4 linked regions of the Homo sapiens genome follow. The protein of the gene in region 4 purifies or fractionates together with the protein of the main gene of each other region. This does not show direct contact. Each region holds a gene or a part of one and is shown on either strand. Other genes may lie near its edges.

What was found. Proteins that work in one complex are often made in the same cells at the same time.
Region 1: the proteins of CYB5A (region 4) and MXRA7 fractionate together in Homo sapiens (co-fractionation; one large-scale study listed by BioGRID). This does not show direct contact.
Region 2: the proteins of CYB5A (region 4) and SOD2 fractionate together in Homo sapiens (co-fractionation; one large-scale study listed by BioGRID). This does not show direct contact.
Region 3: the proteins of CYB5A (region 4) and ZNF185 purify together in Homo sapiens (co-immunoprecipitation; one large-scale study listed by IntAct). This does not show direct contact.

What each region holds. Positions count from the first base shown.
Region 1 is NC_000017.11:76,683,466-76,686,965, forward strand, and holds part of MXRA7 (matrix-remodeling-associated protein 7), read right to left. Parts: intron 1,701-3,500; coding exon 1,607-1,700; intron 463-1,606; coding exon of another isoform or gene 429-462; exon of another isoform or gene 382-428; intron 1-381.
Region 2 is NC_000006.12:159,672,742-159,676,241, forward strand, and holds part of SOD2 (superoxide dismutase [Mn], mitochondrial isoform A precursor), read right to left. Parts: 3' UTR 1-3,500. UniProt on the Homo sapiens protein: Destroys superoxide anion radicals which are normally produced within the cells and which are toxic to biological systems.
Region 3 is NC_000023.11:152,918,567-152,922,066, reverse strand, and holds part of ZNF185 (zinc finger protein 185), read right to left. Parts: intron 3,085-3,500; coding exon 2,986-3,084; intron 1,740-2,985; coding exon 1,656-1,739; intron 1,361-1,655; coding exon 1,319-1,360; intron 1-1,318. UniProt on the Homo sapiens protein: May be involved in the regulation of cellular proliferation and/or differentiation.
Region 4 is NC_000018.10:74,260,964-74,264,463, forward strand, and holds part of CYB5A (cytochrome b5), read right to left. Parts: intron 2,515-3,500; coding exon 2,386-2,514; intron 1-2,385.

The DNA of each region.
Region 1 (3,500 bases), on a different chromosome or scaffold from region 4:
GCAGAAGCTGCCTCATCTTCTCAGGGTGAGACCCAAGGCTGCAGGGTGACGACATCCACATTTCCGAAGCCTGAGGTCCCAGGGTGACAGTTCCCCCAGCCTTGCGAGGGGGCGCTAGCACCCCAACCTGCCGGCCCATTAGGCCCCCTCCAGGAACTCAGGGACTTAACTCCCCTCCAGGAACCTCTGCCCCCAGACGGGGCCTCTTCTGCCAGAGATTCCTCGTGCTTGAGAAGAATGAGAAGGGCTCAGGTGGGAAATGTATTAATCGGTTATGAAGGCGATGGAGGAGGGGAGGTTGAGGCCGCGTCAGTTGTTTGGGGGCACGTTAGCACGCAGTAGAAGGGGAGCACCACTAGTCTAAGAAATCAGTGTCCTTACCAAAAGGATTTGCAAGAATATTTGTGGCTCAGGACCTAAGGAACTTGCTACAGGGAAGTGAGGTCAGAGGTCAGCTCAATCCTGAAATATAAATGCAGCAAACCTGGTCATGCCAAGCGGCAGCATCCTCAGCACCTGAGGACTCGGGGCTCCTGCCAGGGCTCTTCCTCCTGGCTGTGCTTACACTGCCCGCCCCCCACCCACCCAGGGTGAAGAGCTTTCCTGCTGAGGGTCGAGAGCGCTGATGCCAGCAGCGGGAGGGGAGACAGGGCCTGTCACCGGCAGAGCAGCTGTGAGGTTAGAGGGCTGCCCGGCGGGTGGCTTGGCATGCAGCCATGAGAGGGCAGTTGAGTTCTGATTCCAAAATCATAAACCACCCCTCCTGCTCGGACCCTAGACCGCTGGTTTCTGCTGACAAGTAGGGGGTGATTCCCACAAGCTGCTCTGGGTCGCCAGGCTTGGAAAATGGCACAGCTACCACCTAGACTTCTGCTTTAACCAAAGGACTCCAGGCCACGCTGCAGAAGGGCAGCAGTGTGGGTGAGCACCAGGAGCCTGCTGCGCCTGGTGCAAAGGACTGTCCCTCTGCTGAGACCTCCCCAGCTGTCCCACTGTGCCCAGCGCACCCCTTCCCCGCCCAGCAGGATGGTGTGGAGGGAAAAGGTGGCGGGGTGCCCAGTGGCTGTGCAGGGGGTGTCCAAATGGGAAGGGGGAGCCAATTCCAACAACGAGAAGCCATAGCTGCACTGCCCGGAGCTACAAGGCGCTGCTGCAGGCGCCGGCCTGGGAGGCCGCTGAAGGATGAGCACCAAGAATCCGCTGTGTCCCGAAGGAGAAATGGAGAAATCAGCTCTGTTGGGGACTGTGTGTGTGAGTGACAGCCAGGTCTGCTCCAGGCTCTTTCCTGGCATCTCATTTCTTTAGATGGGGGCAGTGGGGTGTGGAGGGGGTGGGGGGGTGCAGTAAATGGGCTCTGTATCCCCCATCACCAGTGGCCTCCTTCTGGTCAGTGCCAGGGAGGGGTGCCAGGGGTGTGCGAGCCTGGCTGACCAGGGCAGGAAAGAACTCCTAAACTGGGAAGGTGGGGCGGTGGTTGGGCAGAGCGTGTAGGAGCCCCACCTCCTTTCTGGGCCCTTCTGCCAAGGGGCAGGAACATGAAGGGCTCAGAGGGGCACCCCCCTCCCCCAAGAGCCCGCCAGGCGCCAGCGAAGGGGCTGCAGCCTACCTCTGCTCCTCCTCCAGCTCCTCTTTGGTCATCATCTTCTTGTACTGGTTTCCCCTCAGCTTCCCGGGGCTGTATTTGAAGGAGAAGCCTTCTCCTGTGGAGGGGGGACCCAGTAAGTGCCAGGAGTGCTGTAGAGGCTGGCCCCACAAACCCCGGCCCCCTTTCCCTAGGTTTAAAAAGAAACACCTCAAGCAGAGGCCACATCTGGCTATCAGAGACATCTCACCCCAGCGCCTATACCCCCTCTCGTTCCATAGCTTTCCCTTAAATCCTACAACGAGACAGCCAGAGAGAAAGCAGTCCTACTCCTAGTCCACAGCTGTCTCCAGATGCCACATCCCTCCCAACATCTGCAGTGCTCTGCCTTGCCCTGGCCCTGCCCAGCAGGTCCTCTCGGCTACTGAGCTCAGAGGCGACAACTCCGGCAAGCAGAGCACAGCTCATCTTGGGACACACACCACGCCTGCCTGGGCTTGGGGAGGCTTGTGTCATCCCCCCACCCCCTGTGGCTATTGGAAATCTGAAAACACGCATCCAGGCAGCCCACAGTGGCCAGGCCAGGGATGCGGGATTTGCTGCAGCAGGTTTGACGTGTGTACCGCTGAAGAGGCAGAGCCCGATTTGCCAGTCCCCGAGGGGAGACCCCCCATTGCTGCCTGCAAAAAACGGACAGATCTCGAGGCCTGAAGAGGGCACATGGATGGGTAGGTGGTGGGCACAGAGGAAGCCAGGACCTGTGGCCTGGAGTGGACACAGGCTCCGGGCACATGAGCCACGGTGAGGAGAGAAAAGCTGAGCTTCCAGAGGGAAAAGCCCCATGGGGGAGCAACCTCTTGGTTCCTGAATCCAGCAGGTGTCGGGCAGAGCTGGCTGGCCTCTTATCGACCTCCACTAACTAAAGGACCCAGTGAGGGAGGCATAGAGAGATCCTCAGCTGCTATTCTGGAAGTGCTGCCCTCTCTGTCCCTCCATATCCTGTCCAGCAGCCCGAAAAGCCAGGCCCCTCCCCTCTAGCTTGCAGCCTTCATGCTACCGGATAGGCTGATGTGGACCGATGGGGAGGCGGGGGGGCTCTCAGGGTGAAAGGAAGAAGGTTCTAGATGCGAATTCAGAACCCAAACATCTGGTTGGGTGTGGTGGCTCATGCCTGTAATCCCAGCACCTTGGGAGGCCAAGGCAGGTGGATCACTTGAGGCCAGGAGTTCGAGACCAACCTGGCCAATGTGGCAAAACCCCGTCTCTACTAAAAATACAAAAAATTAGCCGGGCGTGGTGGCAGGCGCCTGTAATCCCAGCTACTCAGGAGGCTGAGGCAGGAGAATCGCTTGAACCCGGGAGGCAGAGGTTGCAGTGAGCCGAGATCGCGCCACTGTACTCCAGCCTGGGCAATAGAGTAAGATTCCAGTATCCCCCTACCCCCCAAAAAAAGAAAACATACAAAATCCTGCCTTGGTCCCAGTCTTAGGTTTCAATTTATGGGGCAAGTCTGATTAGTTTTGTTTTCTGAGCCAGACAGAACAAACGACTTGAAAAGGATTTCGCTCAGTCACATGCAGTGCACCAGGCAGCGCATCCAGTTTTGCTAGACCAGAATTCAACGTGACAGCCTCCGAGGGACGGGGGAGGTTTCTTCCTCCAGTCTCCTGTGAATTCACCTAGTCGCTCAGGGAAGTCATTTTAGCGACACTAATAATTAACCTCTGAGGCTGCCTCGTACTGCAGAGGGGCTGGAGGTGCTCACACATTCTTCCAACAGCTGGAGCCATAAACCTTTCCTTTCCCTGCCTTGCTAGAGATGGCAGGAGGCTAAGATGGCAGGAGGCGCTGGGGGTGGGGGATGTTCAGGAGCAGCGGTGCAGATAAGGGGGGAGGCTGGTGACAGTGCTGGGGGACT
Region 2 (3,500 bases), on a different chromosome or scaffold from region 4:
ATATTAACCTTAAATGTAAATGGGCTAAATGCTCCAATTAAAAGACACAGACTGGCACACTGGATAAAGAGTCAAGACCCATCAGGGTGCTGTATTCAGGAAACCCATCTCACGTACAGAGACACACACACATAGGCTCAAAATAAAAGGATGGAGGAAGATCTACCAAGCAAACGGAAAACAAAAAAAAAGGCCGGGGTTGCAATCCTAGTCTCTGATAAAACAGACTTTAAACCAACAAAGATCAAAAGAGACAAAGAAGGCCATTACATGATAGTAAAGGGATCAATTCAACAAGAAGAGCTAACTATCTTAAATATATATGCACCCAATACAGGAGCACCCAGATTCATAAACCAAGTCCTTAGAGACCTACAAAGAGATTTAGACTCCCACACAATAACAATGGGAGACTCTAACACCCCACTGTCAATATTAGACAGATCAACGAGACAGAAAGTTAACAAGGATATCCAGGAATTGAATTCAGCTCTGCACCAAGCAGACCTAATAGACATCTACAGAACTCTCCACCCCAAATCAACAGAATATACATTCTTCTCAGCACCACATCGCACCTATTCCAAAATTGACCACATAGTTGGAAGTAAAGCACTCCTCAGCAAATGTAAAAGAACAGAAATTATAACATACTGTCTCAGACCACAGTGCAATCAAACTAGAACTCAGGATTAAGAAACTCACTCAAAACCACTCAGCTACATGGAAACTGAACAACCTGCTCCTGAATGACTACTGGGTACATAACAAAATGAAGGCAGAAATAAAGATGTTCTTTGAAACCAACGAGAACAAAGACACAACATACCAGAATCTCTGGGACACATTTAAAGCAGTGTGTAGAGGGAAATTTACAGCACTAAGTGCCCACAAGAGAAAGCAGGAAAGATCTAAAATTGACACTCTAACATCACAATTAAAAATATTAGAGAAGCAAGAGCAAACACATTCAACAGCTAGCAGAAGACAAGAAATAACTAAGATCAGAGCAGAACTGAAGGAGACAGAGACACAAAAAAACCTTCAAAAAATGAATGAATCCAGGAGCTGGTTTTTTGAAAAGATAAACACAATTGATAGACCGCTAGCAAGACTAATAAACAAGAAAAGAGAGAAGAATCAAATAAATGCAATAAAAAATGATAAAGTGGATATCACCACCAATCCCACAGAAATACAGAGTACACAGAGAATACTATAAACACCTCTATGCAAATAAACTAGAAAATCTAGAAGAAATAGATAAATTCCTGGACACATACACCCTCTCAAAACTAAACCAGGAAGAAGTTTAATCCCTGAATAGACCAATAACAGGCTCTGAAATTGAGGCAATAATTAATAGCCTACCAACCAAAAAAAGTCCAGGACAAGATGGATTCACAGCCGAATTCTACCAGAGGTACAAGGAAGAGCTGGTACCATTCCTTCTGAAACTATTCCAATCAATAGAAAAAGAGGGAATCCTCCCTAACTCATTTTATGAAGCCAGCATCATCCTGATACCAAAGCCTGGCAGAGACATAACAAAAAAAGAGAACTTTAGACCAATATCCCTGATGAAAATCAATGCAAAAATCCTCAATAAAATACTGGCAAACTGAATCCAGCAGCATATCAAAAAGCTTATCCACCATGATCAAGTGGGCTTCATCCCTGGGATGCAAGGCTGGTTCAACATACACAAATCAATAAAAGTAATCCAGCATATAAACAGAACCAAAGACAAAAACCACATGATTATCTCAACAGATGCAGAAAAGGCCTTGGACAAAATTCAACAGCCCTTCATGCTAAAAACTCTCAATGAATTAGGTATTGATGGGACATATCTCAAAATAATAAGAGCTATCTATGACAAACCCACAGCCAATATCAGACTGAATGGGCAAAAACTGGAAGCATTCCCTTTGAAAACTGGCACAAGACAGGGATGCCCTCTCTCACCACTCCTATTCAACATAGTGTTGGAAGTTCTGGCCAGGGCCATCAGGCAGGAGAAAGAAATAAAGGGTATTCAATAAGGAAAAGAGGAAGTCAAATTGTCCCTGTTTGCAGATGACATGATTTTATATTTAGAAAACCCCATCATCTCAGCCCAAAATCTCCTTAATTTGATAAGCAACTTCAGCAAAATCTCAGGATACAAAATCAATGTGCAAAAATCACAAGCATTCTTATACACCAACAACAGACAAACAGAGAGCCAAATCATGAGTGAACTCCCATTCACAACTGCCTCAAAGAGAATAAAATACCTAGGAATCCAACTTACAAGGGATGTGAAGGACCTCTTCAAGGAGAACTACAAACCACTGCTCAAGGAAATAAAAGAGGACACAAACAAATGGAAGAACATTCCATGCTCATGGATAGGAAGAATCAATATCGTGAAAATGGCTATACTGCCCAAGGTAATTTATAGATTCAATGCCATCCCCATCAAGCTACCCATGACTTTCTTCATAGAATTGGAAAAAACTACTTTAAAGTTCATGTGGAACCAAAAAAGAGCCTGCACTGCCAAAACGATCCTAAGCCAAAAGAACAAAGCTGGAGGCATCACGCTACCTGATTTCAAACTATACTACAAGGCTGCAGTAACCAAAACAGCATGGTACTAGTACCAAAACAGAGATATAGACCAATGGAACAGAACAGAGCCCTCAGAAATAATACCACACATCTACAACTATCTGATCTTTGAGAAACCTGACAAAAACAAGAAATGGGGAAAGGATTCCCTATTTAATAAATGGTGCTGGGAAAACTGGCTAGCCACATGTAGAAAGCTGAAACTGGATCCCTTCCTTACACCTTATACAAAAATTAATTCAAGATGGATTAAAGACTTAAATGTTAGACCTAAAACCATAAAAACCCTAGAAGAAAACCTATGCAGTACCATTCAGGACACAGGCATGGGCAAGGACTTCATGTCTAAAACACCAAAAGCAATGGCAACAGAAGCCAAAATTGACAAATGGGATCTCATTAAACTCAAGAGCTTCTGCACAGCAAAAGAAACTACCATCAGAGTGAACAGGCAACCTACAAAATGGGAGAAAATTTTTGCAATCTACTCATCTGACAAAGGGCTAATATCCAGAATCTACAAGGAACTCAAACAAACTTACAAGAAAAAAACAAACCCCATCAAAAAGTAGGTGAAGGATATGAAGAGACACTTCTCAAAAGAAGACATCCATGCATCCAACAGACACATGAAAAAAATGCTCATCATCATGGGCCATCAGAGAAATGCAAATCAAAACCACAATGAGATACCATCTCACACCAGTTAGAATGTCAATCATTAAAAAGTCAGGAAACAACAGGTGCTGGAGAGGATGTGGAGAAATAGGAACACTTTTACACTGGTGGTGGGACTGTAAACTAGTTCAACCATTGTGGAAGACAGTGTGGCGATTCCTCAGGGATCTAGAACTAGAAATACCATTTGACCCAGCCATCCCATT
Region 3 (3,500 bases), on a different chromosome or scaffold from region 4:
GGATCACGGCCAAGAGGTGGCCCAGGCTGGGGGTTCAGTGACTCCAGCTCAGGATAAGGACAGCATACTGGGTTGAATAGTGTCCCCCCAAAATTCATGTCCCCTGGAACCTGTGACTGTAACCTTATTTGGAAATAGGGTCTTTGCAGATGTAATCAGGTAAGATGAGGTCATACTGGAGTAGGATGGGTCCTAAATCCAATGACCGCTGTCCTTGTAAGAAGAGGGAAATCTGGACACAGACACACAGAGAAGAGAAGGCCATGTGAAGACAGACGCACAGACTGGAGTGATGCAGGTACAAGCCGAGGAACACCAAGGATCACCAACCACCAGCAGAAGCCAGGAGAGTGGCCTGGGATGGTTTCTCCCTCAAAGCCTCCAGAAGGAACCCACCCTGCTAACACCTTGATCTAGACTTCTGGTCTCCAGAACCGGGAGAGAATCCCTTTCTGATGTTTTAAGCCACTCAGTTTTTGGTACTGCGTTACAGAAACCACAGGAACCAAATGCAGCCAGGAAGACCCCCCCACCGCCCCCCGTTCTCTGTCACTTCCTTTGTGCTGCCACCATCCCTGCTCTCTGTATTCCTGCCAACTTCCTGGTCTTCCAACACAGCAAGCTAGTCCCACCCCGGGCCTGTGCACTGGGGCCCTCTGCCTGGGGCAGTTGGCATGCTGTCTTCTCTTGGGTTTGCAGTCCCCAGCTAGCCACCTCAGCACAGAGAGAGGCCTTCCCTGTCCACTCAACTGGAAGTCCCTCAAATTCAAGTTTCCAGAAGTTTCTTTCTTGCTTTCCCCCGAATATTTTCCTCCTCCAGAAGGTGCCCTGTCTCAACTAATGGTGACACCCCTCCCTCATTCAGCTGGAGTATCCCGACGTTCTGATCATTCCCTGTTAAGCCCTGTTCACCCTTTAGGGCCCATCTCCAATGTCACAGTCACCTCCCAGGGGAAGTTCTCCTGATGGCCCAGGTTTTGATCCTGGATGAGAGCAGAAGGCAAGGCATCAGGCAAGCAACAGGGGCAGGGGAACAACTCCCAGAGGGCCTTGGAAATGCTCCACGTTGGGTCAGGGGCCCAGCCCCATTAGCCATTGGCAAATGGAAGAGCTTGACCACATATGCTACCACAGCCACCCAGGTGCTTGCCAGGCCTCCAGACAGAAGCCCCCAGCCCCTCACAACTCCCCCTGCTCAGGGACAGTAGTCCCCCACATCCACATCCCCTCTCCACAGCTCCCACACTACACCCCTGCTGACGGAAGGCCTTCCTGTGGCCAGTAACAGGCCTCCAAGGTGTCCCTTGATGACACTTACCTCTTCGCGATAAACGGTGCCTGTGTCTCCTGGGTAGGACTGCTGGAAAGGAAGCAGAAAGGCAATGCTTTGGGCAGAGCCCGTGGGCAGGTGACATCAAGACCGCTCTACCTCAGAGGGTCCTGGGCCCTCTCCATTCCCGGCACTTCACTGTCCCTGGTGGTAGCCGCCAGACCTCTCCATTTTCTAGAAAGTACATCTGAGAATCTGAGAAGGCTCAGCTAGGAAGGCCCTTGGGGGTGATCTCTCCACCCACCCTTTCATCAGCCAGAGAAGGCTGGAGCTCTGAGGAGAGGAGAGCTGTCCTAGAGCCTGGAGCCAGTTGGTGGCAACTCACCCAGTGCTCTTCTTGGCCGCTGACAGGACGTAGGAGTGCTCCCGGGGAGCTGTCCTCCTCAGAACACCGCTTGCAGCCTCTGACCTGGGGTGACACGGGATGGGGGAGCATCTGATGGGTGCCAAGCTGGACATGCTCTGCCAGCCTAGCCTGGGATGGACTCGGGGTGACTTAGGGCCACCCCAGGGAGGCAAGGGGTGAGAGAAACCAGATTTGCACCTGCTCCAAGGACTATTCAAAGGAAATGTAGAACCTGAAGGAAGGGCAGCCCATGTTTATGGAGCATGTGGCATGTGCCCGGCTCTGCGCCAGATGCCAACATCCTCGCATTGGCTTATTGCTCTTCTCAATCCAGGAAAGTAGACGCTAGTATCCTCTGTGATTTACAGATGAGGAAACTGAGTCCAAGAAGCTTTCATTATTTGCCCAAGAGCACTCACCTAGCAGGTGGCAGAGCTGGCATTCAATGCTAGGCAGCTCCTAGCTTCTGGCTCTTTTCCTTGCTCCACCCAGGCCTGGGGGCCCCTGCCACTGTGAACTGTTCCCTGAGGATAGCCAATCTGCCAGGGCCTTTGGCAATGGGGCTTTGCTGTGATTCCTGCGCCACAGATGGGTCAGCAGATATGGACCTGGTGGCTGGCTGAGCCCAGGGAGGGGAGGGCTTTATTTCCTCAGGGCCCAACTGCTGTACAGGCCCCAAGCCAAAGGCATACAAAAGGTGCTTAACAAACCCTTCCTGTCATAGTTCACCAGCACTGGGTGGTATGTGGTCAGTCCCCATGGACAGAGGACTGAGGAGGGGCAAGGGTCCATGGAACTTTGCTGGCCTGTGTGGACGAGGGCAGCTTGGCGCAGAGACTAGGGTAGAATTTCAGCAGCATGGGGCACACTCCCACTGCTGTGCATGCCTGGAGCTCAGTTTGGGGTCCGGGGCATTCAGAACCCCCAAGGCATGCAGATCATGCAGATAGAGGGCACTGTGCAGGTGGCTTCTCCCTGAATATTTTTGTTCAACTGTCTCAGGGCCCTTTCTAACAAACCGATTTAGAGCCCTGAAGAGCCTCCACATGAGGAGGCTTTTCCCCGGACCCACATTACCTAGGTTCTACCCCACAGAAGGTTCTCAAGGGCCCCTCAGCTGGTCCAACACTGAGTGGGTGGTTCTGGCACTCAGAGAATGACACCTATTCTCATGCTCCGTGGGCTACCGCTGATGGCCTACGTGTTGTGCATTTTGTCACCCCAACCAGTACAATTCATTCCAGCAGTCTTCGAAGACTCAGGCTCCTGCCCTGCCCCCCGGGATGCCCAAAAGGCACCATTCCATTACCTCCGTTTCTGTTCATCTGAGGAGAATGGCACCACCTCCTCCTCCTCCTCCTCCTCGGTGTCCCCTGATGTAGAGCTGCGCCTGATATTGTAGGGTGCCCTAAGAGAGGGGAGAGGCGCTTTCCTGTCATAGGCTGCCACCCTCAGCAGCTTGGCTTCCTGGCTTTCAACAACAATGACGAGGCAAGTCAATATCTCTGCCTTTGGGCCTTAGGTCATGCCACTTGTTCCTCCCTGAGACCAGCTCTCCCCTCCCTCCCTGTTCGAGCCTCTCCCCTTCCCCAGAAAGGTTACCCAGCAGCTCCCCAACCCTGGATGATGGAGGCAAGGGACAAACAACGGAAAGATGTGGTCCCCTGGGAACTAGAGACACAATTCACACCTCTGTCCAGAGAACCCTCCTCCCTGAGCATGCAGTGGGGGGTGGGGGGCTTTGAAAGGGACCCCAAGGGGAGCACTAAGGGAAAACCCGAAGGTTTCTATCCAAGAAGCAGCTCAGATTTAGGCACACAATGC
Region 4 (3,500 bases):
CACATTATGGAATTTAAAAATCTATGAAAGTACCACTTCCAAAATGCTGACTTTGAGACTTTTTAAAATTATAATTCAGTAATTACCATTTCAGATTCAACATTTAGCTATTAAACACAAAGTTTGATCCATCTGATTTAACAGCAAAAATTAGTAGCAGATTAAGTGCCAAGAGATATTTTCTATCTAGAGTTCCAAAGTTTCGAACAGCACCCATGACAGCTCTCTGTACATGCTGATGTGCACACACATTTATTAGACTCAGATTGCGACACGTAATTCAGGGAGGAGCTGAAGACTGATTCTTCCCTTCTGTCCTCTCAAATTCCATTTGAGATTGTGCATGTATCTCTTACGTGTATGATATCTTCAGTTAAGCCCTGCAGTCTCCCAGTTTTAGAGTCATAAACTATTTCAACTTCAGGCTGAAGCTGTCAAAAATACAGTGTGTTTAAAGGCTGGCCAGGGGGAAGCCCAGTGGGCAGGTGAAGCAGAAGTGCCACAGTCAGGGCCTGAAACCTGACCCACAGCTGGAAACAAGGATGGGATCAGGCATGTGTAACGGCAGGCCTCCCTGATGACCCTAAGACACTTTGCCTTTGTGAAGTATGGGATGAAAATATCGGGGCAAATAAACTTGTCAGATGAATGAAGCTTACTCCCTCAAAGTACATATCTCCTACCACCAAAAACAAAATCAAACAAACCTCCCAACTCAATGAAGTTGTTCTCAAATGGATTTCCTACTTTCGAGCCTTCTACAAAGAACCTAATGTAACCTCTTCTTCATTCACAGTCATTACAGGGATCATCAGTGGTATACGATAAGACTTTTCCTATATTCTTTAAGAGTTTCTCAGTTTGCTCACTTAGAATGAGGCTATTTGCCTCTCCATTTTTTTCTTACGAGAGCAGAGCGGGCTCCTAGCAGGTCTTTGTCCCCTTCTGGCGGGCTGCTAACCATGCACCACAAGTGGGAAGGCAGGACGGAGCCAGGCACTCCCAGAGGTGGACAGGGCAGCTGAGTGTGCGGCCCCAGGATCCACTCCAGAAGCTCAGAGCGCTCGGCAACTTCTTTCCAAGTTTTCAGCGATTTTCCTGATAACTTAGGTTGACAGACTAGTAACATTTAACATGGTCATTTACAACTGCCACAGAGGGGTCTAAAACCGTAACACAGCACAGTGTTTATAGAAAAGCCAAATTAGGACTAGGTGCGGTGACTCACACCTGTAATCCTAGCACTCTGGGAGGCCTAGGTAGGTGGATTACCTGAGGTCAGGAGTACAAGGCCAACCTGGCCAACATGGCGAAACCCCATCTCTACTAAAAATACAAAACAATTGGCCAGGCATGGTGGCCTGTGCCTGTAATCCCAGATACTTGGGAGGCTAAGGCAGGAGAATTGCTTGAACCCAGGAGGTGGAGGTTGCAGTGGGCCGAGATCGCGCCACTGCACTCCAGCCTGGGCAACAGAGCAAGACTCTGTCTCAAAAAAAAAAAAAAAGAAAAGAAAAGCCAAATTAGGCCAGTGTTTTCCAAAAGTTGGTCAATGAATTGGTCCAGAGCTGATATTCTCGAAGGTCTGGGGTACAGTGAGTAGAATATGGACAATGTGCTAGTTCTACAGAAGGCAGAGCTTATTCATTTCACATAGCTCCGTTTTTATATTTTTTAAATCATTTTTTAGAACTAAAATATCCTTGGCCTAATGAAAGTAGAAGTGGGGTTCTTAATAAAAATATTTTGGTCAGAAAAGGAAAGAAAGCAATGCTGGGTTGATTCTCCCCACCTTGTAAAACGTGCTGCCCCATGGAATTTCTAGGACTGAGCAGACTCCCCAGTGCATGGCTGTGGGGTGGAGCCTGCTGACTAAAACGAAGTGCCAGTAAACAATGCAACCAGGCCAGGTGTGGGGGCTCACGCCTGTAATCCCAACACTTTGAGAGGCCGAGGTGGGTGGATCGCTTGAGTCCAGGAGTTTGAGACCAGCCTGGGCAACACGGTGAAACCCCGTCTCTACAAAAACTATGAAATTTATCAGGCGTGGAGGTGTGTGCCTGTAGTCCCAGCTACCAAGAGGCTGAGGCAGGAGGATGGCTTGAGCCCAGGAGGTTGAGGCTGCAGGGAGCCATGATCGTGCCACTGCACTCCAGCCTGGGTGACAGAGTAAGACCTGTCTCAAAAAAAAAAAAAAAAAAGCAACAGTGAAATGCAAAGACATTTTTGGTCAATTTATTTATAACAAAAAATGGTGTCCTAAAATCAGGAGTTGTTTTTGCTTTACTCCTTTTAAAATGTGTATACATGCAAGCTTACAGACTAGGGTAAGGTCATCTGATAGCCTTAAATACAAATAAGAAAGGGCCCCCAAAATGTACTTACTGGATGGAGCTCCCCAATGATGAATGTTTTGGACATTTCCCTGGCATCTGTAGAGTGCCCGACATCCTCAAAGTTCTCAGTAGCGTCACCTCCAGCTTGTTCCCTTAAAACTTCTTCCCCACCAGGATGCTGTTCAAAGGAGAGGTAGAATAAAAATTTTTTTTTCAGGCAAATGAATTAAGAGAAAACGGCCAGAATTTATTTAACCAAACAGGTGACTCCTTCAGAAGACACAGATGACAACAGGAGACTAACTTGTCCATAAATGTGGATTAAAACAACACAGGCCTTTATATTCCATTTCCATCATGCAAGTACAATAGGCCTAGGCAGCAGAATCACTTGGGCCCAAGTTCAAAGCCAACCTGGGCAACATTGTGAGACCCCATAACTATAAAATACAATTTTAAAAAATTAGCTGGGCACGGTGGCATGCCCCTGCAGTCCCAGATACATGAGAGGCTGAGGTGGGAGGATGGCACAAGCTCAAGGGGCTGAGGCTTCAGTGAGCAGTGACTGCACCACTGCACTCCAGCCTGGGTAACAGAGGGAGACCCTCAAAAAGATAAAAGTAAAAAAAAATTTAAAAACAACCTTTCCCGGCCGGGCACGGTAGCTCACGCCTGTAATCCTAGGCAGATCACTTGAGTTCAGGAGTTCGAGACCAACCTGGCCTACATGGCGAAACCCCATCTCTACAAAAAATACAAAAATTAGCCAGCCGTGGTGGCGGGCACCTGTAGTCCCAGCTATTCAGGAGGCTGAGTCTTGAGAATCGCTTGAATCCAGGAGGCCGAGGTTGCAGTGAGCTGAGATTGCGCCACTGCACTCCAGCCTAGGCAACAAAGTGAGACTCTGTCTCAAAAAAAAAAAAAAAAGAGAGCGAGAAAGAAAGAACCTTTCACTAACAACATAAGTTGCTTCCCCATGTCACTCATACAGCTTAGTAAAAGCATGAGGCTCGTGTCCTTCATCCTTTGGTAATGTCTGCTTGGTTTTTCCATCAGGCTCTCAAAATTGCTCTTATTCTCTACCCAATCTATTTTTTCTTGACTCCTGCACCTGAGACTGACTTCTCTGACATCTTAGTCTAAGTGTGGCCTCAAGAGCTGGCA